Linked DNA regions of Homo sapiens: regions 2, 3, 4, 5 and 6 are each linked to region 1. Evidence: fine-mapped expression QTL. A gene starts in region 1. Each other region holds a variant in brackets. All regions are shown on one strand. Distances are from middle to middle.

Region 1 (5,076 bases):
CTGTCGTTTAATTCAATTACCTTGTGGTAAGAAAATATGGTCTATATGTCACCTTTTCTTTGAAATTTTTGAGACTTGTATTATGGCCCAGTGTGAGACCGTTTTGGGGTATAAATGTTGCATGCATGCTGAATTGAATGGCTATTTTCTAATTGTTGGGTGCACAGTTCTATGTAAGGCCAATAAACAAATCTGCGTGCTGAATCCTCCCTATCTTTAAATTTGTAAAAATCTGATGCGTAATGATGGTGTTTGGCAGTTTTTTGTGACTTGCACTAAAGGCGTTCACATGAGACATGAATTCTACGAGCTCCCTGGCTGGTCCTGAGGGTGCAGTGCTAAGGACAGAAGAGTCCCAGGCTTGGTGGCCTTGGAAGAGGCCCCACATCCGAGTGAGGGGCAGGATGTCAGAGCTGCCGGAGTGGGGCTCATTCTTTTCTGCTTGTCAGTGCAGTGACCTTCCTCACCTAGATGACCTGGAAAATATTCCTGCCAGGTGGGCTGGAGGCTAGGCCGGCTGAGCATGAGATAAGAAAGTGAAACGACTTCTTTTTTTTTTTTTTTTTTGAGACAGAGTTTCACTCTTGTCGCCCAGGCTGGAGTGCAGTGGCGCAATCTCGGCTCACTGCAACCTCTGCCTCCCGGGTTCAGGCGATTCTCCTGCCTCAGCCTCCCAAATAGATGGGGTGAATTGAATTCTTCATTCAACAAACACCGCTAGGAGCCTGCACTGTGTCAGGTGCTAGGCCAGGTGCCCTGGGCCCTGCCCTCACAAGCTCCTGGGCCAGTGTGAGCCAGTGCCAGGAGCAGCCTCACGGTCAGAACTGGGCGTTCATTACAGGGGTACAGGGTGGGGCATCCGCTCTTCTGGGTGCATTGTGCCACGCCAACAAGACACACACCATCTTGCCAAGGTGCCGTGGCTGGGTGCCAGGGCATCTCGTGAGATTCTAGTTTACGGGGCGTTTTGAGCCTCTGCCTGTCTAAGCAGGGAGCAGACTGCATTTTCCAGACTCGGAGGCTACGGCAGAGTGAAAGCAGAAGTAGCTGCAGATGCTTCCCCTCCTGGGAGTATGTAGGACAGGTCGAGCTCCCAAGGATGTTTGGAGAGGTGTTTGGGAGCAGAAGTTCATGCTGGTGTTTAGGTTGACTCATCCCATGCGAAAGTATTTTGAAATCAGTTGCCGACATTTGAAACTTATTGATTTCATATAAAAACAGAACTGCCTGGTGTGGCTGGAAGCCCTGGGCCTGGCCTGAATGTAGCTCCACCGTCCCCAGCCACTGTCTACAGATTGTCAGGTCTGCACTGGCATTTTCTTTCAATACACTTAGAGGAAAGTGAAATATTTTTCTTACACATGTTCCCATGAACTGGGGCAAAATTAAGAAAACTCCACATATTCCAGGAGAAATAAGAGAGTATGTTTCTTGGTGCAGGTAGAAACTGATCTTAATTTCATCAAATGAATAAAGTGTGGACAGATGGAACTTGAAGGCACCCAGATGAAGCCAATTGCTTCTCTCATGACCAGCCTTCTCCTCTCATGTCCATTATTTATGTGAAACTCAGAAGGAGCCACAGCAGCCATGCAGAAGAACCCAGGGGGCATCTGTGGCACCAGGGCAATCGGACTGCCTCTGGCTGGACCTTGGCAGGGGATGGTACCTGTACACAGAGGGCACATGCAGCCTGAGGGGCATAGGCTGCCAGCCAAAGGCCTGGGTTTCGAGTCCAGCTCTCACATTTACTGCTGCGTGGACTTGGACAGGTTGCATGCTAAGATGGCATTGGGCTCAGTAGCAAGTGCTCACGGTGTTGGCTGCTACCGTTAGGGATTTGACTGAGGGAGCCCAAGAATGAAAAGAGCTCGATTTCTGCCAGCTCAGTTGGGTGGGGGACTCAAGACTTGTCATTAAGTTGATTTATATTTTAAAAAGTGACATTTCCTGCACATTTGGGTTTTTGGCTGAACATCTAAGCATTGTGACAACGTGCAGGTATAAAGGAGTACAGGAGCATAAGGCCTTCAGCCTGCTGGCTGAGCCTGTGTGACTACCAAAGTTCCTCCAGGCTAAGGACCTGGACATGGGGCCTGTAAACTTGGATGGGAAAAAAATTACATCTCTGTTCTCTAACCTCTAAGGAACACTTAGCATCTTCTTCTAATAGTAGTGTGGCAAACGAACCACAGAAACATTACCACCCAGTAACTTTATTTCTGGTAGGAATCACAGGTCTTTCCATCCACATTCCAGCTGTTACAGGTATCTCTCAATATCGATTCCATTTATCACCATGTCGAGATGGTGGTAGCTGTTTCATCTGCTGCCAGATCTTGCTATTTACTGTGTGGATAAATAAGCATGTATATTTCTACTTCACAAGTTTAACAAAATATTTTGATAACTGTGTGTTAATACTACTGATTTCTACTATGATCCTTATCTATTTTAGTTTGGGGATTTAAAAATCTTATTCTGAGAAGAGAGTGATAGGCATTCCTAGACTCAGAGGCTCCCATGGCACAAAAACAGTGACCGAGCTGGACTATTGGCTGGAGGGGCATTTCCTATTTCTGCTCCAAGGCAGAGGCTACTGCAAGGGCTGGACTGCAGGGCAGACCGGCTTTGCCCACATTCCTCTCTGAGACTTACTAGCATGGGTCATTAGGCAAGAAACCGCACCTTACCGAGCTTTGTTCCCACACTCTGTGGGGAAGATTATAGGAGAGAACACTGGGTATAATACCCCAGCATGTACAATGGGTCTAATCACAGCCAGCTTCTGGTGGAGTCCAGAATGACAGGGGCTTCCTTCAGCCCTGTCTTCAGAGAGGCTGAGAGGAACTGAACAGCCTCCTGGCTGTGACAGTGGTTTCCTTCCCCATCAGTCACGTGGGTCTTGTCCTGTCCCCAGAGCCTTGGGTCACATGGCTCATTGTGCCTGCGCTGCCAGCAGCCAGGAGCCAGGAGCCAAGAGCAGAGCGCCAGCATGAACTTGGGGGTCAGCATGCTGAGGATCCTCTTCCTCCTGGGTAAGTGGGGACTGCGGGGGTCTCTGGCCCGGGGGAGCCTCAGTGGGCAGGAAACTGGGGGAGCCTTAGCCCACTGGGGCTTGATCCCTAAAACATAACTCTGTCCCTTTACACAGATGATGTTTCTCACTTTGATCTGGTAGTGAGCAATGATCTTGTTTGTCTCATTCCAGCTGCAACTTACAAATGCTTCTGGGCTAAAGGAGAATAGGAAGGGTCATGGCAGAAGGAGCTTCGGGCTTGGGATCTAGAAACATCTGGGTGTAAACTGTGGCTCCATTGCTGATAAACTAGAATAAGCTTCTGAAACTCCCTAACTTTCTGAACCAATGAGATGGGAGATAATCATGTTTACTTTTTGGGATTTCAAGAGAGTTAAGTTAAATTTAATTAAGTCAAATCAAAATACTGACATAGAATGAGAACATGTAGGCATGTAGATACTGGTATACATTTAATGTTGAATCAGAATTCTCATGCAGTGAAGCAGACTCTTTGCTACTCAGAGGTATCTTTGTTTTTAAAAATTATCTTTAATGCATTCCTTGAAAGAAGGAAGAAAGGAGAGAGGCAAAGACTAAAACAAAGTAGGGCCAAATGGAGGAGAGAAATATAAAGTCAGAGAAGTAGACAGAGAGGAAGAAACTCAAAGAGAGAGAGAGAGAGACAGACAGAGACATAGAGAGATGGTTAGAAATATGCATAGATGGAGACAGAGATGGAGAGAGACACATGCCTTTACGAAGTCCCCTCTGATATCAACTGTTGTTTCCTAAAAAGGCAGCATACGTCCCTCATATATACAAAGACGTTCCTTCCCAGAACTTGCACTGGGCCGAGACTCAATGGGAAGCAGTCTGTCTCCAGATTAAATCTTGTGTCTCCAGACCAATAGGTTGTATCCTGAATGCGGGCAAAGTTAGTGCTGTGGGCAGGTTTCCATCTAAAGTCTGCACTAAGCAGGGGAGAGCAAAGACTTTGGCCTTGGGAGTCAGCATGTCAGACAGACAGCCAGCCACATCATCCATCAGTTTACACATGGAAACGGGCCGTTGGCAGTGACTGTGAAGGGATGTCAGGCACCAGCAAGCAGCGATTAAGGGTGTGCACGGTGGTTAGATGCAGTGTGCCTGCCCAGAGACGTGGTGGAAGGTAAGAGAAGTTGTAACCCTTATTTCTGCTTTTGACTTACCTAGATAAACAAACTAGTCTGTCCTGGTACAAAAAAAGGAAGTTAAATTTAAGAAATCCAATGAAAAATGTGCAAATTATATAAACAGGCAATTCATTGAAGAATCACAGACAATAAAACTTTAAAATGTCCAGTCTCACAAATAATAAAAGATCTAACACCTCCTCGCATTTTTTAGTGTGTCGATGTGCTGGGTGCTCTGCTGAAGATGTTACATGAGCTCATTTGGTTCCCACAGCAACTCTGTGCAATAGGTGCCACAATTACCTGCATGTTATAGATAAGGTTTTAATCACTGGGCCAAGGCATCACAGCTCGTTTCTGCTTTCATATACTATTGATAGAGGTACACAGTGGTTAGGAGTGGGTATCCAGTACGAGACTCCTTAAATGTTCATCCCTGTTCTGTTGTTTACCAGCCTGGAAAACTTGGACAAAGAATTAATCCTCTCTGTGCCCAGTTTTCTCATCTGTAAGTTGGGGACACCTCACAGGACTATTGGGAAAATGAAATCTGTTACCACATTTAAAGCACTTAGCATGGGATGTGATAAGTGGTGAGCACTCACTATTGGATATGAGGGGACTCATTTATTCACTCTCTCCAGAGGGCAATTTGGCAAAATCTGGGTGTCAATGTAAGCGAAATGTAAGATGTTCATAACCCTTCACCCAGAAATTCCACCTCCAGGAATATAACCTGATGAAATAATATGGTAAAACCCTCCCAAAATATTTCACAGGGTATTATTCAACACTGCCGAAACCACGGTGGGAACCAGAAACAAGAGACTATCAGTAGGAATTTGACTAAGTTAATTATGCTTTAGTATTTCCAACAATATC
Region 2 (5,064 bases), 21 kb before region 1:
ATTCCAGCTGGGGCTGTTTGATTTAATTTCAGTGCCTTCTTTCCATGACCTCGGCAAGTATTTGATCAATTGAAGAGGTGAAACAAAGATTGGTTTCCGTTCTCAAATTGTTGGTTTGCGTCTCTGGGAATTAGATATTTGCTAACTCTGGTGAAAAGAGACTAGAGAGCAAAGATCTGGTAAGCGAGTCTCTGTCTGTAACAGCATATCAAATTGAACTTGTGTTTTTCTTTAAGTGTGTACTGTTTCAAGAGAGAAAATGAACAGAGGTGGGGTGAGAACCATGCATGGGAAGGAGAGAAGGATGAGAGAGCAGTACCTTGCCACACGGCGCATCCTGAGAGACAGACAGGATGGGCGGGTGACAAACCTGAGAACTATTTCACATTGGTTCTTTCAGATACATCACAGACTAGTTTTCAAGCGTGGCCTCTACAGAAATGAAATTCAGGGGAATAAGCTGGTCATAAGGAAATCATAGGATCACTGTAACTTTAAACTCCTGAGCTTGAATGATCCTCCCACCTCAACCTCTGGAGTATCTGGGTTTACAGGTCTGTGCCACCATGCCCAGCCAATTATTAAGATTTTTTAGAGACAGGGTCTCTTTATGTTGCCTAGGCTGGTTCCAAACTCCTGGTCTCAAGCAGTATTCCCACCTTGGTCTCCCATAGCGCTGGGGTTATAGGTGTGAGCCACCATGCCTGGTCTGATACTCCTTTAACCTCATTGGCTTTCACCCATGACTGCTCACCTACTTTTCTAGACTTGGCTCTAAGTGAACTTTTACTCTTTTCTCAAATCAAATTCACTTTTGAAAGGAAAAAATTGGCCTCCTCGGAAGAGAAGCAGAAGTCACCCTGACATGGGGCTGACAAGGCATGGGGCTAAGAGAAGAGCAACCAGAGCCAGGCCGCCATTGATGGTGTGATACGGGCAGGTCCTTTCCTAACCCCAGGCCTCACCTGCTCCAGGCCAGTGGACCTGGTCACACTCTAGTTCTTCTCTGACCTACTAGCATGTGCATTCTCCCTTGAGGGGTTTTCATGAAAATCATTTTCTTGGGGAGTCAGCAGGCCCATGGGCGATGGAACACAGAGAAGGCACTCATGGTTTTGAGACACCACAGAAACCAGTTGCAAGGGGAAATGCTTTTGAAGGTGAAGGATGGAACATGTTTGAACTATCAAAAGATTTTTTCCCCAACCCAACTCAACGTTAGAGGCCAGGATAGATGTTACCTCCATCCTGAAAGCAGTGGAATTCCCATATTGTCTCTTGTCCTAGATCCACACCCAGAATCCCTTGTTACTCTGAGTAGCACTCAGGGAAATCAATCCCACAGAAGGCTGGTTCCTAACTGCTGATACAGACAGACTCTTCACTTTTGGATCCACTCTTTGTATGCAGTGGTTCTTCAAAACATCAGAGCTAAAGGGATTTTTAGACAGCCCGGATAAATCAATATGGTGGGTACTATGGTGACTCCTTTTATGAACAGGCTTTGAAATGCTAAAGATCTTTCTAGTGCGGTCCCAAGTAACCCTGAACCACTCTGAGGAACACAGCTTATACACTCTTTAGTCTAAATTCTATCATGGGCTTTTGGCCAAAAGCAATAAGATCTGACCCTAGCTGCAAGCCCTTTGTACACGGAGCTATATAATAGATTTCTTTTTTCTTTTGTGTAATTTTGTATATGCTGAAAAAAAATGATCAGATAAAATTATTCAATGCAGTGGCTTCTATTAAGTCCATCTTGGAACTGTTATCAATTTTCTTCCTAATGGGAAAATAGATTTTCAGAAAAGGTGAATCAGGTTGTTCCCAACATCTGCTTATTTGCTCATCTGTACGTTTTTAGTGGCTACCATTATAAATGATGTTTCTGGCCAGGCATGGTGGCTCACCCCTGTAATCCCAGCACTTTGGGAGGCCAAGGCGGGTAGATCACCTGAGGCCAGGAGTTCGAGACCGGCCTGGCCAACATGGTGAAACACCCTCTCTACTAAAAATACAAAAATTAGCCAGGAGTGGTGGCAGGCACCTATAGCTTCAGCTACTTGGGAGGCTGAGGCAGGAGAATCGCTTGAACTTGGGAGGCAGAGGTTACAGTGAGCTGAGATTGCGCCATTGCATTCCAGCCTGGGTGACAAGAGTGAAACGCCATATAAAATAAAATAAAATAAAATAAAATAAAATAAAATAAAATAAAATAAAATAAAATAAATAATGCTTCTGGAGAGCAGCAAAGACAATGTGAGTGTGGGGTCCCAAGGAGAAGGGCTTCCTTGCCCAGGCTGAAGAATGAAGAATTCCCTGTTTGTTCCTGTGAAAGCCTTGGGAAGGAGGCAGAGGCCTGAGGGCCAAGTTTTCCTGGAATGTCCACTCGTGGACTTCCACTCCGGCAGCTCTAGCAGGAAGAGCCCTGGCTTCATCATGGCTCTTTTTGGGGGTCCATAATCCTGGATTCCACACCTTACCTGGCTTTGCAGCTGCATGGGCCAGGACATAGTGGAGTGGCGGAATGTGTCCTGCCCACTGTGTGCCTGCTGTGCTGTCACTGGGGGCAAGGATGGGAGAGATGGAGGGAACAAAGGAAGAGCCAGTGAGGGGGCTCTGCTCCCATGCAGCCTGAGAGCCAGCTGTAAGCCCCATGTGCTGCTTGACTACAGGGCCCAGGAGTGGGGTTGGGGGAAAGCAAGGCCAGGTGAGGATGCAGAGTA[G/C]CTGAGACCAGCATTCTGCTGTCTGTGTCTGGAGAGAAGGCTGTTAGTGCCCAGGCTGTAGCCAACCCTGGTGCAGGGGGTCCATGAAACCCCTTTTTCACTTGATGAGGGGTGTAGGGGTATAGGAGATGAGAGCTAGGCCGGACAGCTCCAAGAAGGCCACCACAGATCTAGAACCATTCCACTTGAGAAGCCGAGAGCAGGGACAGCTGGATTTGGGGCCAGGAGGACTCAGAAGGACGGAACTACAGATGAGGTCTGCTTCCGATGCACCCAGGAAGTCAGGGAGGACTGAGGCTGGGAGAGTTAGGGTGAGGTGTTCCTGTGTGTGCCAAACACTGTACTAGATCCAATAGCAAACACTCCGCCTGTGGCACACATGGGCCGTGCCACCTTGCAGGTGCCCGCTCATTCAGTGCCAGGCACATCTTACTGTTCTCATTAATCTGATCCTACAGATGAAGAAACTGAGGCCCAAGGAAGTTATGTGACAGGCCCAAGGTGACACTGTGTATAAATGGGAACACAGAGTCTGGGACCCAGGCAGGCTGGCTTCTGGGTGGAGGTCCTAACCATGCACTAAGAGCCCTACTAAAGTCCTAACCATGCACCAAGAGGCCACCACGAGCCCTGCTCCTAGGCACAGCTGGTAAGGGATACAGCCAGGACCCAAAGCCATTATTCTCTGCTCCAAAGCCCAGGACCCCTCTAGAATCTCAGCCCCAGTAGCTTAGGACAGAGCTAAGCATCCTCTGTTTTTTCCACAGCTGCTCCTCCACTAAGCAAACACTGCTCGCTCTCTCCTGCCTGTCTATTTTTGATCCTGGGCTCTGCTTCCTCCCTTAGCATCCCTCCCACCCCCAACTTTAATTAGAGCTCATGATCCACTCAAGAGCTCGTTCTGTGCATCAGCTCCCCCGGCACGAGCTGCTCATGTCTCTAGGCTTCTTGCAGCGAAGATGACCGAGAATAGGCCCCACAGCTTAGAGCACAGGTGATCTGCCAGACAAATCTCTGGGGAGAGCAAAGGATAAAGCCACGCCTGTACCACAAAGGCCATGCTAGAGGATAATGTTTGACCCTTGAGAAAGCCCTTCCCAACTGCTCAGAAGCAGGCAAAGCTCAGAGCAGGATGTGACAGGACTAAATTCCAGTGGAAATGACAGAGGATGTAGATACGTGGAAGATAATTGTCCCGATTGGGACCTAAGGCAGAAGTTTGGCACAAATGGAGCTTGCATAAAATAAAATGAAATAAAATCTCGAAAGCAAGGGACAAATACACGGAGCTTAGTGCAGCTCCATGACTTACATACAGCTGCTGCACATTTCCACCGAGGTTGGATTTAGGTTTCCGTGGGCAGAAGTCACTGCAGGGCTGAACGCAGGGATGGTTCTCCTGGAAAAGCCCCACCTGGGGCCATCTGACCCGTCAGATGGCACGTCCTGCCAGGGGCAGGCATTGAGTAGTGACTGAGCTGGACCAGGGCTGAGGGCTCTTTTAGAAGTGGGATCACTGCTGTGACGTTAATAAAAGTTTGAAAAATACAGAAAATTGAGAGGAGGAGACATTGATCCTCTCCTAGGCATACAGCCCAGATACAGCTATTATTGTCATTTTATTATATTTCATTGCAGCCTTTTTCTTCGCCATGTATTTTTGTGAGCTTGCTGTGTAAACAAATTTTGTACACTGTCTTCCCCCCAAATGGGCTTCTCCATGTTATTACTTTGTAAAAATTACCTTATTAGTTGCTCTATATCCTGTCAAGTGAGTTGGAATGCTCCTCTTTGAACATCTGAGTCATTTCTGACTTTTCACTATTGTAAGGACGTTTGTACATAGGGTTATTTTCCATATTTGAGGTTACGTTTTTATAAAATACCTACAGAAATATAGTTCACATATCAAAGAGCACAGTTATTTTTAAAACTCTTGTTAAAAATTACCAACTGGCCCTCTCAGTGTGACAGTCTGTGGGCCTCCCTAAGATTCCACCTTGCAGCGTAGGCTTTGGCTTCTCTGCTATTTTCTGATTCATTCAATCATTCATTTATTTAACAGTTATTGAGTCTCTGCTGTATACCAGGCACTGCTGTGTGTGCAGCAGAAACAAAAATGAATCGGACACATCCCTGCTCCTTGGAGAACTCTCGGTCCAGAGGAGAAGATGGATGACAACACAACATGACGTGTGGGGTGGGGGGAGTTGTGTGCCATGTATGGTGTCTTTCTGGACAGCCCTTGTGGAGACGCCTGTGGCTAGGCTCCCCCTGGGGCCAGGATCCCATTCCCTAATTCCAGTGTTCCCAGGAGCACCTCCCACGCTTCTCCTTT
Region 3 (5,076 bases), 53 kb after region 1:
ATTAGAAGTGAAGAGAGACATGGCCTCTCTGCTTCCTGCTGTGGCTGTGGCCACTTTATTTCCTGTTAGCCTCCTCAGCTGGGAAAAACAGAGGCTGGGAAGAGTAGGTTTTGGAAGAAAAGTTAAGAGTAGAAAATATTCCAGGCCTCTTGGATGAGGTTTAGGGCTCGCATGCAATGTGTGCAATGAGCTGGCCAGGCGTCAGAGCTCCAAGAAAGTGCTGCGTTGGTCCTTTTGGGGGTTTGCACACCAGCCCTGCTGGCTGCAGCAGTGAGGCGCAGAGGTTCCTGGCAGGGCTGGAAAACCCACTGGAGAGTGGCAGGGGGATGGGTGGGAGCCCTTTGTGGGTGGTCTCAGCTGAACATCTGCATGGAGCAAGCAGAGCGGCTGGGGCAGAGGCTCTTCCCATAGACGGAAACAGCCAGAGGCCATGTGAGTGAGGAGGACAATCGCTCACCATCTGAGGGGCTTCACTCCAAACTAGCCCCAGGGAAGTAGCCCATAGGAAACATCAGAGCAACCTGGCCATGCAGCCCTGCCCCCAGGCGTGAGATGGAAGCCACTTCTCTCCCAGCTTTCCCACCCAAGGTTCATCAAACCCCTCTGAAGTGCCAAGCTCCCTATCTCTAAGGAGGGTTCACAGTGTATAATTTTTGAGAGGATTAGGAAGAACGTATATAGATTCTGGGTAAAGAAAGACCCGACTCAAGGGACTTTGGAAAACATCGTTTGGATCCCAAATTGTAAAGCTTTTGCCTTTACAAAAGCAACCGTATATAAACATTGCAATCTAGTAAGTTGTTTCCTATGGGGTAAGAATGGGAACCATCCTCCCAAGTTGTCCTGGGAAAACCACAGGGCTCACCTGGCCCCCAGGTTTCCCTGACTGGGCCAGGAAGAAGCACAGAGCACAGATGCTGGTTAACGAACTAGCTCACTAGAACATATTTAAATATTACAAGGGAAAATCAAAGTCCATTGAATTACCATGCCCTGTAACAAATTGCCCCAGAAACTAGTGTGTAAAACACCTTTTCTTATGCTCACAGTTTTCTTATGCTCACGGTGGGTGGGGAATTCCAGGAGGGCTTGTCTCTGCCTTGTGATGTCTTGGACCCCAGCTGAAAGACTTGAAGTCTGGGAAGCAAAATTATCTGAAGGTTCCTTCACTCACACATATGGTGGTTGATTGAGACCTTTGCTGGGGCTGCTGCCTGGAACACATCTATGTGGCCTCTCCATGTGGCCTAGGCTTCCTCACAACATAGTGGCTGAGTCCAAAGGAGAAGGGAGACAGAACCAGGAGGAAGTCACATCTTTTATGATCTGGCACTGACAGTCACAAAACATCACTCCTGTGCATTCTGTTGATTGAGGCAGTTACAAAATCCACCCCAGTTCAGGAAGAAGGACGCTGTCGTGTTATCAGAAGAGCATGTGGGTTGTGATATAGATTGGTTTGGCCATCTTTGGAAAATTTGGTCTCACACAGCCCCACCTAATCTTTTTCCTCTTTCTTGAGGTCAACACTGTTTTCTCTTGGGTGTGATTATTTTCAGATCTCCTCTGTGCCTTTTGATACATAGACAATATAGAATTTGGTCAGTGCTTTTGAGGGAGTATGTTTGATTTTTACATAGGTGGGGTCATCTATCTATTCCTTGTATCTTGTGTTTTCATTTAACATGAATTCACTTATCAGTATGTATAGATCTCTTTCTTTTTATCGTGGTGTAGTATTCCACAGTTTGATTATGTTGTAGTTTCTTTATTTTGATGGATCTTAGGAAAGTCTCCTGTCTTTATTTCTATTATACACAATGCTGCAATAAATATTTCTCTAGGTGCTATTTTATGCACATATCATGTAATGTGGCTGTTCCCTAGGAAAGAGATGATAGTAAACTGCTTAGGAAGTGCCTGCCCACTTTTAATTCTAATGGGTACCACCAAACTTTTTGAGAAAGTTAAGGTACACTGTTCCAACAGAGAATAAAAGTGTTCATTTCCTTACGTCCTCACCAGCACTGGGTATTGTCCATCTTTTTAACTCTTACCTATCTCATGGGTGAAAAGTGCTATACTGTATACTACACATTTTTAAGTTGTAGCTCCCTTATTACAGTAGGACTCAACATCTTCTCATATATTTATCATCCCTCTGCATTTCTTCCCCTGGAAACTGCTTGCTCATTTGCTTTTTTTTCCAGTTCCACTGAAAAGCAGAGGAATGCAAATTGAAACAGTGAGTTTTTTAAAGCAGTGAAATTAGAAAAGATGACAAAGTTTCTCAATGCTTGCGAAGACTAATATTGTTTAAGTTGAGAAAAAGCACCTTGTAATTACAAATGTTAACATATTTTCTTTCTACACATTTTTCATTAAAGCGTAAGCTCTGAACCATTATGAAAATATTCTTAATTGTTTTACATGAAGTGAGACCAAAGTTGATTCAAAAAAATAGCGAATATAATTTTTCAGCATAATTTGTTGGCTGAGTCTCCTTTCCTCCCAGACTT[G/C]CTGTTTACTTTGCCGCTTAACAATTCTCCATGATGTCATCTCTCTCTGAACTGCCTTCCATCCCCCAATGACCTACTTATTTTCTGTGCTGGCTGCCCCCTCTTGTTTTTGTAAGGCAAGTCTTTGTATTTATTTGTTAAAAAAGGGTGCACTTACACTATTTCCTCTTTTAGCCAGGGGACGTAGTCTTCTGTTTAGGTCAGGCGTGACTTTCATGGCTCAGTAGAGCACCGTGGTGTCTTCCTCCACACAGTGGCCTCACATTCTAGAGAGGAGGGTATTCCTCGGTGCTGGGTGTGTGGGGGATGTTGATGTTGCTTGTGGAATATTGGGATTATTTTCAATCCATCACCTATCTGAACTGTTTAGTATTTGGGATTCAAAGGAATAGAGTTGATGAGACTGACCAAGGGTGGGAAGAGATTAGCCACAGAGGGAAGTGGTAAGAAGCTTGTTGGAGGAAATGAGTGAAGTGCCAGCGTGTTGCAGAGCAGAGAGATGGCAGGTGAACATTTTATCAGGCTGATTGAGGCTGAAGCGTGGTTTGTGCAAATGGAGAAGGAAGAGGCAACTCCCAGAGTCCTAGTGGGAGAGAACCAACCACCCTGGAACTGCAGAGATCCAGGGAGCACAGAGGAGGCAGCTCCCAGAGGGAGTAACGCCTTTTTCAGCCCAACGTGTTCATCAGCTATTTACTCATTATTTCCTGAGTGCTTGTTAATATGTAAAACATTGATCTAGACACTAGAGATATAATGAGGTGGATGGAACGAAGGAAGTCCCTACCTGCCTAAGCTTACATCTAAGGAGGAGAAGACAGATACAGGTAAACCCATGAGATACACACACAGACATTATATACAGCCTAGGGTGGTAAATGCTATCATGGAAAAATAAAGCAGGGTAAGGTGACAGAGAGTTGTAGGGCCAAAGAAAGCTCTTTTCCTGGGGGTGCCAGGCAGGCTCCTCTGACCAGGTGATGTTTCAGAGGAGACCGGAAGGAGAGAGAGCCACACAGGAACCTAGGGGAAAGCCTGGAACAGGCACAAGGAAGAGCAAGTGCGAGAGCCCAGAGCCCGTGAGGGGAGGATGCCGGGCATGTCCGGGAGCAGTGAAGTGTCTGGAGTCACAGGAACTGAGCAAGGGAGTGAGTAGAGGAGAGGGGAGGGGAGGGGTGGGGTGGGGTTGTGGAGGGTTGAGGAGCTAAACAGGGTCAGCGTGGGGACGTAAGATGGGGGAGAGAAGGAGAGATTTTCCACACTGGGAAGCAGGGTCATTTTATGTTGGCTGCTGACTGTATGTATGTGAGCCTATGTATGGTTAATTAATCTGGCATGAATTTGTGTGCATGTATGTGTGTGTGGTTAAGTAAATATGTGTGTGAATTTGTATGTGTGAGCATGTTATGTGTCTATGTGAACACACGTACATATGTTTATGTTACTGTGTGTGCCATATGTGTTCCAGCGTATATGTGTGTCTGAGTGATCATGTATGCGTTTCTTTGTGTGTGAGTGACATAGTATGGACATGTGTCCCCTTCAAATCTCATGTTGAAATTTGATATCCAATGTGAGAGGTGGGCGTAGAGGGAGGTGTTTGGGTGACGGGGACAAATCCCTCATGAAGGGCTCAGTGCCACCCTCGTGGTAAAGAGTTCTCACTCTTAGTTCTGTGAGAACTGAGTGTTGAAAAGAGCCTGTCACTTCCTCCACTCTTTCTTCCTTCCTCTCTTACCCATGTGATCTAAACACACCTGCTCCCCTTCCCCATTTGCTGAGAATGGAAGCTTCCTAAGGCCCTCACCAGAAGCAGATGCTGGCACTATGCTTTGTGTACAGGCTGCAGAAACATGAGCCCAATACACTTCTTTCTTTTATAAATTACCCAACCTCAGGTATCCCTTTGTAAGCCACACAGATGGACTAAGACAGCGGTTCCATGCATGCTTAAGTGTATACAAGTGTCTCTGTGTTTATGTGTTTGTGTTTTTATGTGTGTCTAAGGAGTTAAGAGTATGTGTGTTTTGTGTTTCTGTGTGTCCATGATAATACACAAGACAGAAAAGGAGTTCCCATGGGGAAATGAGAACATGTTGGGAAGCCTCTCCTGGTATCCAGCCTCAGCCTCTGCCCTCGCCATGGGTCACAGAACAGACCAGTGCCATCGATGAGGTCACACAGTAGAGCTAGGATCTTAGCGACCATGGGGAGCTCAGTGTCCACTCTGGCTGGGGCCAGCTGGAGGCCTTCAGTACAGCCCCAGCCAACTCTCACTGAACAGCTGGAGCACCGACACCCTGGGCACTCATTTCAAATCATGAAATGCTACTTCACAGATCACAGGGGAGAACAGTCACCCACCGATGGGACCACCCTCAGCTTGACCAGCCCTGAGTCCACTGAGGAGAGTGTGGAAGTGTTCTGGCCAGGTAGGTGAAAAGAAAGGCCTGGAAGGTCAGCCAGCTGTGCTCCCTGGGAAGGAAGCCCTGATGGGAAGGGACAGTGCCAGGTTGCCTCCTGATACTGTTACCAAATGGTTGTGTTGACCATAAAC
Region 4 (5,076 bases), 42 kb after region 1:
TGCCATTGAGAGACAAAGTTTGAAGTTTAAATCCTGCCAAAGTATTAATAGAAGGACTTAGTGTGATGCTTAATTGTATGTATCAACTTGGCTGGGCCACAATGCCCAGATAGTTGGTAGAACATTATTTTGGATGTGTCTGTGAGGGTGTTTGTGAATGAGATTTACATTTAAGTTCGTGGACTTTGAGTCAAGCAGATTGCCCTCCGTAACTTGGGTGGGCCTCATCTAATTATTCAAAGGCACAGACAAAGCAAAGCCCGAGCAGGAGGGACTTCTGCAGCATGTGGCCTTCAGGCTGGAACTGCAACCTCAGCTCTTCCTGGGTCTCTAGCCTGCTGGCCCAGACTGCACGTTGTACTTGCCAGCTTCATAATTGTGTGAGCAAGTTCCTTAAAATAAACCACTTTATATTATATATACATATATATATATATATATATATATATATATATACACACACACATACATATACACGTGCACACACACACGCACACACATCTTGTTGGTTCTGTTTCTCTGGAGAACGCTAATATACTTGGTAAGCACAGCTGGCTTCCCATGAAAACCAAGACTAGGGGTTGTGCTCTAGGACTAGAGACAGAACTGAAATAGACCCAGTCAACACAGCCTAAAACCAGGATTCTCTAGAATCAAGGTAACTTACCAGTGATGTAACTTGCCAGACTAATGATTTGTGCCCAGGACTTAATTTTAAAGGTGACTGAAAGACAACACAGAGAGCTCATGTCATGGAAGGAATAATTTATTACAGTACTTACACTTCCTAAGAGAAGGGGACATACCATGTCCCAAGAGGCCACAGGGAGGAAGCACCAGGTTTGGTCAAAAGGTAGAAAGAGCCAGAGAAAAGCATGGCCCAGAGCCTTTATTGAGCTTTCCATGGGAAAAGCAAGGCAGGAAAGGGGAAGCAACTTAGTACTGGCTAGTGTGGATAGGGTTGGTGGGCTCTGGTCTCCAGTTGTCTGAATGACTGGCCCTGAGTGATTTAGGGCAGGAGAAATACTGGCTTGGTGTGTGAGAGTTAGGTAAAGAAGGTGGTTGGGGCACACACTCAGGATAGATGAGAAAGTTTGGGATAAATTTTTTTTTTTTTTGGAGATGGAGTCTCACTCTGTCACCCAGGCTGCACCCAAGGTTCAAGCGATTCTCGTGCAGGTGCGTGCCACCACTCCCAGCTACTTTTTGTATTTTTAGTAGAGATGGGGTTTTGCCATGTTGGCCAGGCAGGCCTAAAGTGATCCGCCTGCCTTGGCCTCCCAAAGTGCTGGGATTAGAGTTGTGAGCCACTGTGCCCAGCCAGGGATAAGATTTTTCAGGCACCTAGGGAAACTGGACTGCAGGGCAGATATATACAACAGTAGCTGTTAGTTTGGCCCTGTAATTAATGGATGCTTAGTAGACAAATACAGAATCTAAGAAAACATAGAACAACTAAGCATCAACACTCTTCAAAGGAAGATAACAGAATCCAGAGTTTCTATAATGCATCAACCACAATGTTTAAAGGAACAATACCAGGCAATCAAAAAAGCAGGAAAACATGACTCTTAACAAGAGAAAACAGACAATAGAAGTAAACCCATTATAATCCAGATGTTGAAATTAGCAGTTAAGGACTTAAACAATTATTGTAAATATATATATATTTTTTCAGGTGAAATGAACAGAAAGGTGAACAGAGGGGAATCCTTGGCAGGCAAATGGAAAGTATAAAAGAGTCACATGGAATTACTAGGCTTTAAAAATGCCATATCTAGCCTAGGTCTTTGCACTTGCTGTTTCTGCTACCTGGAAAGCTTTTTCTCCAGGTTCTTGAATGGCAGATCACTCTCTCCACTCAATGTTCTTCCCCCACATTATTCTGCAGGGAGGCCTCCCCTGAGAACACTCCTTTAGTTATATATTCACTTACCATGCTATATTTATCATGAGGACACTTATTGCCACTGGCATTATGTTATGTATTTATGCTTGCATCCATCTATTTTTTTTTCATCCTCCACAGTAATGCCAGCTTCTTTAGGACAAGGATTTTGTCTTTTTCACTGCCAGGGCAGTGCTGGGCAGAGAGCAGGTGCTTAGTAAACATTTGTTGCTATTCCTTTAAAAATATCCAAATAGTATAAGCAACTATAAAGAATATTTTTATAGAAATAATTTGAACATCCAGATAAAATGGGTTATTTTCTTCCCAAATTTAAATGACTATGTTTGCTCAAAAAGAAGTTGAGCCTGGGTGTAGTGGCTCACGCCTCTAATCCCAGCACTTTGGGAGGCCGAAGAGGGCAGATGACCTAAGGTCAGGAGTTTGAGACCAGCCTGGTCAACATGGTGAAACCCTGCCTCTGCTAAAAAGACAAAATTAGCCAGGCATGGTGGTGCGCACCTGTAATCCCAGCTACTTGGGAGACTGAGGCAGGAGAATCACTTGAACCCCAGAGGCAGAGGTTGCAGAAAGCTGAGATTGCACCACTGCACTCCAGCCTGGGCAACGAGAGCAAAACTCCATCTCAAAAAAAAAAAAAAAAGT[A/G]AAAGAAAAAAAGAGGTTGGGAAACTAGCTAGGATAATTACCATAGGGAGAAATGGAAAATAAAAGTTGTACTAGTTACTGCCTAAATCTTCCTCACTGAATCCCTATCAATTCCCTGTCCCTCTAACAGTCTAAAGCAATATCTTTTCCCACATGCTCACCCATGTTTTTTGCCTTTTAAACATTTTGCTATTTTTTTTCCTAATTGAAATCATTTCCAATGGTTTAGTCAGTCTTTTATTGCGTGCCTTTTCTAGTTTTTTTGTTACTGTAAAACACATGTAACAAAAATTCTTGTGTATATTCTTTTGCCATAGACACAAGAATTTTTCTAGGGGCAGATAGAATTTTTACTCCTAAAACTGCAGTTTGCATGTGGCATTTCCACTGTGGAAGAAGTCTGAGCATTAGTGTTACTGGGGAGGCTGGTCTCCAGGGTTTCTGGAGCACTGACATTGGAACAGAAGCATGTTCCTCTCTGGCCTCTTTGAGTTTACACCTCAGGTTTGGCTCCGATTATGCCAGGCTGCTCTTGGAGGCAGAGAGGTCAGAGCTGCTTCTGCTGCTTCTGTGGGTGAACCTGGTTGAGAGAGCCCCCAGATAGGAGAGCAACATGGACAGAATGAACTGTGAGACCAGAAAGGCAAACAGGGTAGCAAGGTGGTGAAAACAAGCTAAGATTAGAGATCAAAGTCAGCCCAATGTCTGAGTGAGGTGAAGGTGGGGACGCTGTGACCACAGCAGTAGGCACAGGCATATGTTAGGCTCAGGGTTCCGTGGGTGTTGAGAAGGTCAGCAGGGGAGGGCCAGGGTGCATTCATTGCTCTTCTCTTTCTTGGGAGTAGCTCGCTTAGAGATGAATTTTATCCCCACTACCTGGGTGAACAGATATGGAACCAGCCTTCAATCAGGATACAAATCTCCAGGAGCAACAGCAGGCACTGAATCCAGAAACTCTTAGCTCATCATGGTGGCCGTGGATCTACAGCTCAGCCCTGAGGAATGAGCAAAGCTGTAGACAAACACATGCAGGGTTTTATGCCCCTGAACCCTAGTGCGCTCCTCCTAAGAAAAAGCCCAAGGCCACTGACACCACTTCCTAGAGAAGGAGTTGGGCAGAAGAGCTGGTTGGCAGAAAGGGGATCTGCCTTCAAAAAGAGTTTCCACAAGTTTCAAGGGAGTGAAGCTTTGTAGAAAGAAAATAATGTCCAAAGAGGGATTGTTTGGGGAAGTTTTGCCACTTAAAACCCTCAATGTCTCTTCAAGGAAAGATAGATTCCAGCCAGGAAGGGCATGAAATGGTCTTAGGCAAGCTAAATGCATCTTCTCTCAGTGACTTTCTAAATGGGCATGGTAATGACTCACCCAACATTAGGGAAGAGATGGTAAAAAGGGGAGAAAGAAAAGAACAAAATCAGAGGACGGTGACAGGAGGTGACTTTGACACCTGGAACCTGCAGGCGGGGGCAGGTCACATTCTCAGACATCACGTGGGGGCTGGAAGGGAGCCCCTCTTCCACTGCCGCATTCTGAGTGGGGAGCCTGTGCTGTCATCTGAAAGCCATGAGGGAGAACATTGCAAGGTCATATTTGGGCCCAGGCCAGTTGAGAAAACTTGTGGATGTACTGCAACTTCTAAGCTTCAGCGATTGTCCGCAGAACCAGTGAGGTATTCTGCTGCCCAAAAGGAAACATCTCCTCAATTAATGATAATTTATAATATGTGCTTAGCATTTGCCTGGCACAGTTTGAAATAACCACTGTAGAGCTGTGTTCACTTTTGCAGGATGGAGACATGGTAATACCAAGTCTGGGCTCACACTGGTTCTTTATGGGGCTCTGCCACTTAGAGGAATTGATGGATGGTGGTGGCTGGAAGAGCTGTTGGCTGGGGCAGGTGTCCTGAGCTGGGGAGGGCAGAGGGAGGCACTGGGAGGGCTCAGGTGGGAATGGATGAGGATCCGGCTTGCTGGGATGGAAAAAGCCTGCACTCTGTAGATAGACATGGGCGTTTGGCTCCGACGCCTGCTACACAACTCGGCAGCTCTGTGACCTTTAAGCAAATTCACCTGGAAAATGGGGAAGAGGGGCTCAAAAATCATCTGCTCTGGGACTACCATACTTGATGACATAATGAAATTACCACCCCATTTAGAAAGTCACTGAAAGGGAACGGTTTAGCCTGCCTGTGGCAAGTCATGTCCATCCTGGCTGGAATCCATGTATTCTTGAAGGCAAATGTGCTCTGCACCTGGTTGGTGGTGTAGGTAAATGCTGACTGTTTTCTGTTCTACAACCATGGGGCTAAGAAGACAGTTCTGGGTGGGCCATCCTTCCCAGCAGCTGGAGCAGCTAATTCAGGTCTCAAGTGTCTGAAGCCTCAGTCATACCCAACTTCCCCCAAAAAGGTTGGAATTCTTGGCCACACTCCCTGGCGCAGTCCCCACAGCTGGAGAGGCTGCCCTGGCCTCCCCCACAGACCCTCTCCACCCAAGCCTGCCCCTAGGGTATCTCTTCCTGCA
Region 5 (5,076 bases), 150 kb after region 1:
CATGGTGGAAGGGGAAGCAGGCACATCTTACATGGAGGCAGGCGAGAGAGGGTGTGTGTGAGCACAGGAAAAACTACCATTTATAAAACCATCAGATTTCATGAGAACTCACTCGCTTGTCATGAGAACAGCGGGGAGGAAACCACCCCCTAACCCAATCACTTCCCTCCCTTGACACCTGGGGTTTACAATTTGAGATAACATTTGGGTGGAGACACAGAGCCAAACCATATCATGGGGTTACGGATTTGGGGGACAAAGAGCACAGAGGTGGAACTCCCTTCTCATTGCATGGTATCGGGGCACATGACGACAATATATCTTGTTAATGGTGATGCTCATCTCAATCACGTGGTTAAGGTGGTGTCTGCCAGGTTTCTTTACTTTGAAGTTACTATTTTCTCCTTTCCAGACTCTATTTGTTAGAGGCCAGTCCCTGAGTCCAATTCACATTCAAGGTGAGGAGAGTTGAGCTCCACCTCCAGAAGGGAGGCATGTCATGAATTTGTGGATATGTTAAACCCACCACAGTAATTAATAAAAATCTTAGGGGAGATATGTTAAGGCTTGCAAATATCTTGTTTTTCCTTGAACTTTTGCCCACTAATCTTGCATTCATCAGTAGATTTTGCTTGCAGCAGATTTTACTATGGTGCACTAAGGGTGATTTTCTATTTCCCTTAATCTTTCTAGATGTATTATTTGGAATTCTTCTATAAGGAAAATGGCCCCCTTTTTTCATTTGTTTATTGTTCACTAATTCCTTGATATCAGTATGGATCCGTGGATATTTATTTTTTAGTTTTTAACTACATAATTATTTATTTTGTTGTTAATATTATTCAGCAGTTAGTTGTGTGTGTGTGCATGAGAGAGAGAGAGAGAGAGAGAAAGAAAGACTGTCAAAGCTATTCTAAGGTGTGTATGCCAAGACAATCTTGAGGGCGGAGTGCAAGGTGGAGGATTTATATGCCAATTCTCGACATCTACATTAAAGCAAGTGTAAGTAATACAATGGGGTATTAATACAAGGGCAGACAAGTAGACAAAGGAACAGAATAAAGAGCCCCAAACATAACTGCATAGGATTGTCATTTGATTTATGACAACAGTGACATTGCAGTGCAGTGAAAAAGAGATTATCTTTTCAATGTTTGGTGACGGGTTTTTTGGATATCCATATGAAAAAAAGATCTATAGCCCCTTCTCTACACCACACACAAAAGTTAACAGGAGATGGATCATAGACATAAGTATGAATGGTACAAAGTAAAGCTTCCCGAAGGTAGCATTTCTTCCTAATTTCAGAGTAGACAAAGATGTTTTTAAACGAGACACATAAAGCACCAACATGAAGGAATGGATAAAGAAATCTGGGTTGTATTAACATTTAGAACTTCTATTCTGTTTAAAGATACAGTTAAAATAATGAAAAGGCAAGCTGCAGACTGGCAGGACATATCTCTATGCATATATCTGCCAAAGGTTTCCCTCCCTCTCTCCCTCCTTTTTCTTTTCTTTAATTTTTCCTTCCTTCCTTCCTTTCTTCCTTTCTTTCTTTCTTTTTCTTTCTTTCTTTTTCTCCTTCCTTCCTTCTTTTCTTTAATTTTTTCTCTTCTTTCTTTCTTTTTCTTTCTTTCTTTCTCTCCTTCCTTCCTTCTTTTCTTTTTCTTTCTTTCTCTCTTTCTTTTTCTTTCTCTCTCTCTCCTTCCTTCCTTCTTTTCTTGTCATTAATTTTCTTTTCTTTTCTTTCTTCTTTCTTTTCTGAGGCAGAGTCTTGTTCTGTCACCCAAGCTGGAATGCAGTGGTACTACCTCGGCTCACTGCAGCCTCCACCTCCCTGGTTCAAGTTATTCTTGTGCCTCAGCCTCTCAAGTAGCGGGTATTACAGGTGCATGCCACTATGCTAGGTTAGTTTTTGTATTTTTAGTAGAGTTGGGGTTTCACCATGCTGTCCAGGTTGGTTTCGAGCTCATGGCCTCAAGTGTTCCTTCCACCTCGGCGTCCAAAAGTGTTGGGATTACAGGCATGAGCCACTGCACCTGGCTGACCTGACAAAGGTTTCTTATCTAGAACATATGAACACCTGCCAATCAATAAGAAGTAAAAAGACAGCACTACCAAAAAATGGACAGAAGGTTTAAATGTGCACTTGACAAAAGAAGATATACAAATAGCCAGTAAACTCATAAAAAGTCCTTAACCTAATAGGCATCATGGCAGTGCAATTTAAAAGCATAAAGCCAGTTCACCTCCACCAGGATAGTTAAAATGAAGTACTTGTGCAGTTTCTTTTTTGCCTGTATTTCTCTGATCCATTTGGAGTTTAGAAATGGATCCAATTTTATCTGTTTGTCAGACTCTTTTTTATTTTACCTTATGCCTTCTATTTCAACAATCATTATTTGCTAATTTCATCACCATATTCTAAACAATTATTTGAACTTAATTTTTGTTTTGTTATTTATTCCTTTTTTTTGAGTCCAGTGTCTTTCCCTTCATTACCTTTACTTGCCTTTCCATTTGAGCAATTTGTCTGTGAATGGAATTCTAGATTCATAAACTTTTTCCACTAGGTGCAGAGAAATAGGATAAGCACTTCATAATGCATTTCTCTGAACTTCCTGTATTGCTGAACATAAATGCCAACCTCATGACTGTCACCTATAATTCCCCATATTATTTGAGCCACATAGGTAATTTAAACTTTCTAGTAGCCACATTTAAGGTTTGAAAAGTAACAGATGAAACCGATTTTAATGTATAGTTTATTTAACTTAACTATCAAAAATATTAT[C/A]ATTTAATCATGTAATCAATATAGCAATTATTAATTAAATATTTTCTATTATTTTTATTGTGGTAAGTCTTCAGAATCCAGTGTCTATTTGATGCTTACTGCACATCTTAATTCACAGCCACAGTTCCAGTGCTTAGTAAACACATTTGACTAGTGGCTACCACATTGGACAGTGCATCCCAGAATGATCTAGCCCCCATTGCTTCTTTGACATGATTTTTATGACCATCCCTCTCTCTCATTTCCCTTCAGCCACACTGGCCTCCTTGCTAATCCTTAAATATACCAAGCATGTTCCTGTGTCAGGGCCCATGTACCCACTCTCCCCTCTTCCTGGAATGTCCTCCCCAGAATCTGTCCATGGCTTATTACTCACCCCCTGTGGTCTCTGATCAAACATCATGTAATAAAGGAGCTGTCCTGATAGCCTATATAAAACACCACCCACCCTGACATATTTTGTGTTTATATCTATTAATCATCCATCTCTTCTACCAGGCTACAAGATCCATAAAGGCAGGGAGCTTGTCTGCTGTGATTCCTGCTGTATTCTTCATGTTTAGAAATGTGTTTAGCGCAATGGATATTTGTTTATGATTCTGCACACCCTCCCTGTTGAGTAGGTTCTGTAATTCTACATCCATAATTGGGTACATGAGCCTCTGAGAGTCAGTAAAGTGAGAGATGGGTGATGTACCCAAGGTCACACAGCTTGTGGGTTGCAGTCAGGGCTTAATCCAAAATCTAAGGTTTTCACCAGCACATTGGAAGCTTTGCCTCAGTGCGGAGTCTGGGCCTAGCTGCTCTCTATATGTGATCCTGAATGCCTGTGTGGCTCAGCCTTGCTCCTGTCCTTGCTGCTCTGTGCTTCACCTGTTTTTTAAAGAGTCTTCTTTTGCCTGCAGTGAACTGTGGGTTCTAGCAGGCTTTTCATATAGTGGGTTCCATTTGGTTCATGTTATCAAAAAATCCTCATCAATTCTACTCTGTTGACTATACCATATGGTTCTTAAAGGCAGCAGCAGGCCTTTTGGCTTATTTTAATAGGCCATTGGCAGTCAGTGGGCTTTTGGAAACTGTGGAGCATAAAGGCTAAAACAATCAATTTCCCTTGGCCTTGGAGCATCCCATTTCTCACCTGTTACATTCAGTCTCCTGCAGATAGACAGGCTGAGTTCACTGTCCTCTAGACTGTGTGCAGCACTGCACATCTGGGTGTGCGTGTTTATGTGGCTCTTTTAGATCTTTTCTTTCTAATTCTGATATTTAACAACTACCTTAAGAGTGACTACAGAGTGACTACACTTAATTTCCCCACCTTATGTTCTCTCTAAGTTACTCAGGACATATTGTTTCTAATCCAGTCTCTTACCCCTTCTAATAACAGAAACAACTATATATTGAAGTTTTATTGATATGTCCCAGGGATAGATCAAAAAAGTGCTTTTGGCATGTCATCGTATTTAATTCTCACAATAAGATTTTCTCATTGCCCCCTACAAGCTTTGCATGTGAGAACAAACAACACTATTTAAGAAACATGATCCATATCCCTCAGGTGTAATGTCATCAGTCTTCAGGAAACAACTTCCCCTAGTGCATAGCCTGGGTGGACCCACCTCTCATTTATCCATTAAACATGAAAATCTTTTGTGCACCTCTTGGGTGCAAAATGCTATCTTAAGCATTTTTTTGCAACTAAAAAAATATCAGATTCAATAGAGTTTTCAAATATAGCTGTGGTCCTGACTACAAGTTTTTTGTTGTTGACTTGTTTGTGTGTCTGAGCTGATGTGCTTCTCTGGGTGGGGACTCATCATAGGAAATTCTCAATTTTCACAGATAATTGATTGGGGCAGCTATATGCATTTCAGAAGGATTCTTTATTTTATGGAAGTATTCTCAATAATAGTTCTTTAAATAACAGGTTTTCCCTTGATCATTTAAAATACAAAGAAATTGGAAGCTTTTATACCAAATTTTCCAGAAGCAAGGTCAATTTGGAAGCTAGTTTACACCTATAACAATTCACAATAAAGACAAGAGCTGACCTCAGTAGGGCCTCTATCAGACCATTAGTTTAGAGACAAAAATATCAGGCCTAGCATCTGCAGTTTTTGGTGAATATCAAGATTTATTTTCCCGGGAGGCCAGCATTGACCTCAGTCTCAGTTTGGTCGATATTTATCTCTTAGATCAATAGGTCTTGATGGTAGCTCAAACAAAAGTCAATAGCCACCTGTTGACTCACACAAAGTTAGTGGATAATTTAGAAAATA
Region 6 (5,076 bases), 180 kb after region 1:
GCTCTTCATCCATATCAAGTTGCCTTTCATCCTCCAGTGACACCACATCACTGTCTGCCCTGCAATCTGTGATGTTCAGACAGGCTCTGTGTTTTCTTCTGAGTAACTGTGTGACTCTGCAGCTCACACACTGACATCTCGAAACAGAGAGAAGTGGAGCTTTTAAACATGCACAAGGCCAAGTCAGACCCATGCAGAACAGATGACCTTGCATCCACCCTCTGAGCGCTCCAGTACACTGCATGTGCCCCTGCCGGGTTGCCCCCACTAGGATACATGTTTCCCTGTTTTTATTTTTTGTTTGTTTGATTGTGGTAAAACTTACATAACATTTACCATTTTAACTGTTTTCAAGTGTACAGTTCAGTGGCATTAAATGCATCACATTGCTGTTCAACCACCTCTGCCATCCATCCCAGAATTTCTCCATCATCCCAAACTGAAACTGTCCCCATTAATAACTCCTCATCCCCCTCTACTCACCAGCTTCTAGGAACCACCACTCTGCTTTCTGTTTCTTTTTTTTAAAAAAATATTTTATTTTAAGTTCTGGGATACATGTGCAGGATGTGCAGGTTCGTTATACAGGTAAACATGTGCCATGGTGCTTTGCTGCACCTGTCAACCCATCACCTAGGTATTAGGCCCCGCATGCATTAGCTATTTATCCTGATGCTCTCCCTCCCGTGCCCCACTGACAGGCCTCGTTGTGTGTTCTCTTCCCTGTGTCCATGTGTTCTCATTGTTCAACTCCCACTTATGAGTGAGAACATGTGGTGTTTGGTTTTCTGTTCCTGTGTTAGTTTGCTGAGGATAATGGCTTCCAGCTTCATCCATATCCCTGCAAAAGACATGGTCTCATTCCTTTTTATGGCTGCATAGTATTCCATGGCGTATATGTGCCACATTTTCTTTATCTAGTTTATCATTGATGGGCATTTGGGTTGATTCCATGTCTTTGCTATTGTGAATAGTGCTGCAATGAACATACACGTGTATGTATCTTTACAATAGAATGGTTTTATTTCTATACATTTGCCTATTCTAAGTGCCTCATTGTAGCGAAATCAATATGGGGTTTATCTTTTTGTGCCTGGCTTATTATTTCAGTTAGAATAATGTCCTCCAGGTTCATCCATGTTGTAGCATGCATCAGAATTTCCTTCCTGTATAAGGCTGAATAATATTCCATTGGATGTACAACCACATTTTGCGCATCCATTTATTTGTGGATGGACATTTGGGTTGTTTCTGCTTTTGGCTGTTGTGAATAGTGAGGTTATGAACATGGGTGTGTAAGGACCTGTTTGAGTCCCTGCTTTCAAAGGGTGCATGTTTCCTAAGAGTCATTTCATCATAAACAGCACATGGCCTCTCATAGACCCAGTGCCCTATAAATGCAAGGGGACTTCAAAAAGTTTATGAGAAAATTGAATTTTTATATATATATATATATATATATATATATATATATATATATATACACACTTTATTTTTCAACATAAACTCCATCAACATCAAGACACTTTTGTAAATGGTGATACCAGCCATTTAATCAGCCTAAAGAACTGAAGATCCCAAGAGCTTAACCATGTCAGTGCAGTCTTTTACCTTATTAAATGAAGAAAAATGGATGCTCTTTACATATGTTTTAAGATTAGGAAAGAAAAAGAAGTCAGAAGGAGCCCAATCGTGGCTGTAAGGTGGATGCCTAATGATTTCCATCAAAGCTGTCAGAAAATTGCTCTTGTTTGATGAGAGGAATGAGCAGGAGCCCTGCCATGGTGGCAAAGGACTCTCTGGGAAGCTTTCCCGGGTGTTTTTCTGCCAAAGTTTTGTCTAACTTTCTCAACACTCTCATAATCAGCAGATGTTATTGTTCTTTGGCCCTCTAGAAAGTCAACAAGCAAAATGCCTTGAGCAACCCGCAGAACAGTTGCCATGACCTTTCCTCTTGACCCGTCCACTGTTGCTGTGACTGGTCCACTTCCACCTCTTGGTAGGTGTTGTTTTGATCATGCTTTGTCTTCAGGATCATACTGGTAAGGTCATGTTTCATATCCTGTTACGATTCTTCAAAGAAATGCTTCAGGATCTTGATCGCACTTGTTTAAAATGTTCATTGAAAACTCTGTTCTTGTCTGCTGATCACAATGGTTTTGACACCATGGAGTGGAGTGTGCTCAATTTTAATTTTTCTCAGAGTTGTATTAGCTGAGCCAGTGGAGATGTCTATGATGTTGGCTCTTGTTTCTGCTGTTAATCATTGGTCCTCTTCAACGAGGGCCCAAACGAGATGAATTTTTTTCCTCACAAACTGACGTGGATGGTCTCCTGCTGCAGGCTTCATCCTCAACATCGTTTCATCCCTTCTCAACACGAGTTATTCATTTGTTAACTGCTGATTTCCTTGGGACACTGTCCTCATAAACTTTTGTTAAAGCATTGATAATATCACCATTCTTTTACCCAAACCTCACAATAAATTTGATGTTTGTTCTTACTTCAATTTTAGCAAAATTCATGTTGTTCTCAAAGGGATTTTTTTTTCTTTTTTTTTAAAGACTGAATTATCTTTCTATTTGAGGTTGTATAATAAAATTGTTGTCACACAAAGGAGCAATCAAAGAACATACAGAAAAACATCATTTTTTATGGCTGCATAGTATTCCATGGTGTATATGTGCCACATTTTCTTAATCCAGTCTATCATTGTTGGACATTTGGGTTGGTTCCAAGTCTTTGCTATTGTGAATAGTGCCGCAATAAACA[T/A]ACGTGTGCATGTGTCTTTATGGCAGCATGATTTATAGTCCTTTGGGTATATAGCCAGTAATGGGATGGCTGGGTCAAATGGTATTTCTAGTTCTAGATCCCTGAGGAATCGCCACACTGACTTCCACAATGGTTCAACTAGTTTACAGTCCCACCAACAGTGTAAAAGTGTTCCTATTCCTCCACATCCTCTCCAGCACCTGTTGTTTCCTGACTTTTTAATGATTGCCATTCTAACTGGTGTGAGATGATATCTCATTGTGGTTTTGATTTGCATTTCTCTGATGGCCAGTGATGGTGAGCATTTTTTCATGTGTTTTTTGGCTGCATAAATGTCTTCTTTTGAGAAGTGTCTGTTCATGTCATTTGCCCACTTTTTGATGGGGTTGTTTGTTTTTTTCTTGTAAATTTGTTTGAGTTCATTGTAGATTCTGGATATTAGCCCTTTGTCAGATGAGTCGGTTGCAAAAATTTTCTCCCATTTTGTAGGTTGCCTGTTCACTCTGATGGTAGTTTCTTTTGCTGTGCAGAAGCTCTTTAGTTTAATTAGATCCCATTTGTCAATTTTGGCTTTTGTTGCCATTGCTTTTGGTGTTTTAGCCATGAAGTCCTTGCCCATGCCTAAGTCCTGAATGGTAATGCCTAGATTTTCTTCTAGGGTTTTTATGGTTTTAGGTCTAACATTTAAGTCTTTAATCCATCTTGAATTAATTTTTGTATAAGGTATAAGGAAGGGATCCAGTTTCAGCTTTCTGCATATGGCTAACCAGTTTTCCCAGCACCATTTATTAAATAGGGAATCGTTTTCCCATTGCTTGTTTTTCTCAGGTTTGTCAAAGATCAGATAGTTGTAGATATGTGGCATTATTTCTGAGGGCTCTGTTCTGTTCCATTGATCTATATCTCTGTTTTGGTACCAGTACCATGCTGTTTTGGTTACTGTAGCCTTGTAGTATAGTTTGAAGTCAGGTAGCGTGATGCCTCCAGCTTTGTTCTTTTGGCTTAGGATTGACTTGGCAATGCAGGCTCTTTTTTGGTGCTATATGAACTTAAAAGTAGCTTTTTCCAATTCTGTGAAGAAAGTCATTGGTAGCTTGATGGGGATGTCATTGAATCTATAAATCACCTTGGGCAGTGTGGCCATTTTCATGATATTGATTCTTCCTACCCATGAGCATGGAATGTTCTTCCATTTGTTTGTATCCTCTTTTATTTCATTGAGCAGTGGTTTTCAAACTGATGTCTGATCCTTCTTAGTGTCTCAAACTAGATGCTGTTCAAAAATGTTATAATGAGTTATTATGACTTTATTATGATGCAAAAAATTTGAAATGCATCATAGTTTTTTCATCATAAGCATTTTCTACGAGCTTTGTGAAAACCCCTCATGTGCCCGGGCTGCTGTCATTGCCATTCCTCGCCTTTCAGGAGCACGAAGTCCCACACTGTGGCAATGAAGATGTCTTTGGAAGTCAATGTTCTCTTTGAGGGACATTTAGAAATTGTGATATATTCAATTAATGATAACCAAGGATAAAATTTAGTTACTAAATTAGTCACTAAATTAGGTATCTAATTTGTAATTAAGACCATTCTATTTATCTAACTCAATGATAAGGTGGGATTGAAGTGGCTTGAATGAGAAAAGCTGCAATATTTGGTTTTTATAGTAGAACATCCTAGTAGGTGTTTGAGGTTTGTACCTGATTTGGATCCTTGAAGCAATGCTATGTGAGCCCTGAGCGGGGAAGGGCTCAGGGGTCTGGTGAAAGTGACCAGCACATGTCAGGCCCCTGTCTGGGCCTGCTCCGTGCTCAGGGCATGGCTTTCAGTGCAGATCTCCCTTCCTGGGCCTGCTGGCTGCACCCTCTGCTGCTTCACTGCATGTGGCCAACCTGGGGCCTCAGTTTCCTCACCCACAATGCTCTGACAATGATGGCATCCTTGAAGACTTTTCTGAGGATGAGGCAGAACTGCACAGTAAGCCCCTGCGCAGGGACCAGTCCACAGCCGGTGTGGGCTGGGCAGTGGTGGCTCTCCCTAGGCAGCCGGGATTCTGGGTGTCGGAGGCTTTCCTCTGCTTCCCTGTGCTCCCTGGGTCTTAATGGCTGCCTGGGGCCTCTGGCGGGGGCTGCCGGGTGGGAGCCTCCCCAGCAGATCTCTGCTCAAGCGATGCTAATTGTGCCTGAGAGAACGGCTCACTAGAGTGGAAAATAGTCCTCATATATCTAGCTGAAGACGATAATGACCTTTTAAATAACAGAAGCAATTTTATTTCAATACCTCAATTACTCTGAACTCTCA

What was found.
Region 2: its variant is fine-mapped to the expression of TMEM273 in whole blood (INTERVAL, PIP above 0.99).
Region 3: its variant is fine-mapped to the expression of TMEM273 in blood mononuclear cells (TOPMed, PIP above 0.99).
Region 4: its variant is fine-mapped to the expression of TMEM273 in whole blood (TOPMed, PIP above 0.99).
Region 5: its variant is fine-mapped to the expression of TMEM273 in whole blood (TOPMed, PIP 0.91).
Region 6: its variant is fine-mapped to the expression of TMEM273 in whole blood (TOPMed, PIP 0.98).

Annotation. Positions count from the first base shown.
Region 1 is chr10:49,186,256-49,191,331 of GRCh38, reverse strand. TMEM273 (transmembrane protein 273) reads left to right here and starts at 2,941. Exons shown (of 7, transcript NM_001288740.3): 1 at 2,941-3,038. The coding sequence starts at 2,996. RefSeq lists enhancers at 273-492, 953-1,112.
Region 2 is chr10:49,206,846-49,211,909 of GRCh38, reverse strand. No RefSeq gene overlaps it. Among named protein-coding and RNA genes, the nearest start is that of TMEM273, 21 kb to the right of the region's middle. The variant G/C (reference allele first, on the strand shown) is at 2,727.
Region 3 is chr10:49,133,682-49,138,757 of GRCh38, reverse strand. FAM170B (family with sequence similarity 170 member B) reads left to right here and starts at 4,737. Exons shown (of 2, transcript NM_001164484.2): 1 at 4,737-4,951. The coding sequence starts at 4,840. It overlaps FAM170B-AS1 (FAM170B antisense RNA 1), which reads right to left. Exons shown (of 6, transcript NR_038973.1): 2 at 2,677-3,102. The variant G/C (reference allele first, on the strand shown) is at 2,520.
Region 4 is chr10:49,144,255-49,149,330 of GRCh38, reverse strand. FAM170B-AS1 (FAM170B antisense RNA 1) reads right to left here. Exons shown (of 6, transcript NR_038973.1): 5 at 3,431-3,549. Among named protein-coding and RNA genes, the nearest start is that of FAM170B, 13 kb to the right of the region's middle. The variant A/G (reference allele first, on the strand shown) is at 2,555.
Region 5 is chr10:49,041,018-49,046,093 of GRCh38, reverse strand. The region is part of intron 7 of VSTM4 (V-set and transmembrane domain containing 4); the gene reads left to right. Among named protein-coding and RNA genes, the nearest start is that of MIR4294, 58 kb to the right of the region's middle. The variant C/A (reference allele first, on the strand shown) is at 2,798.
Region 6 is chr10:49,002,297-49,007,372 of GRCh38, reverse strand. No RefSeq gene overlaps it. Among named protein-coding and RNA genes, the nearest start is that of MIR4294, 19 kb to the right of the region's middle. The variant T/A (reference allele first, on the strand shown) is at 2,773.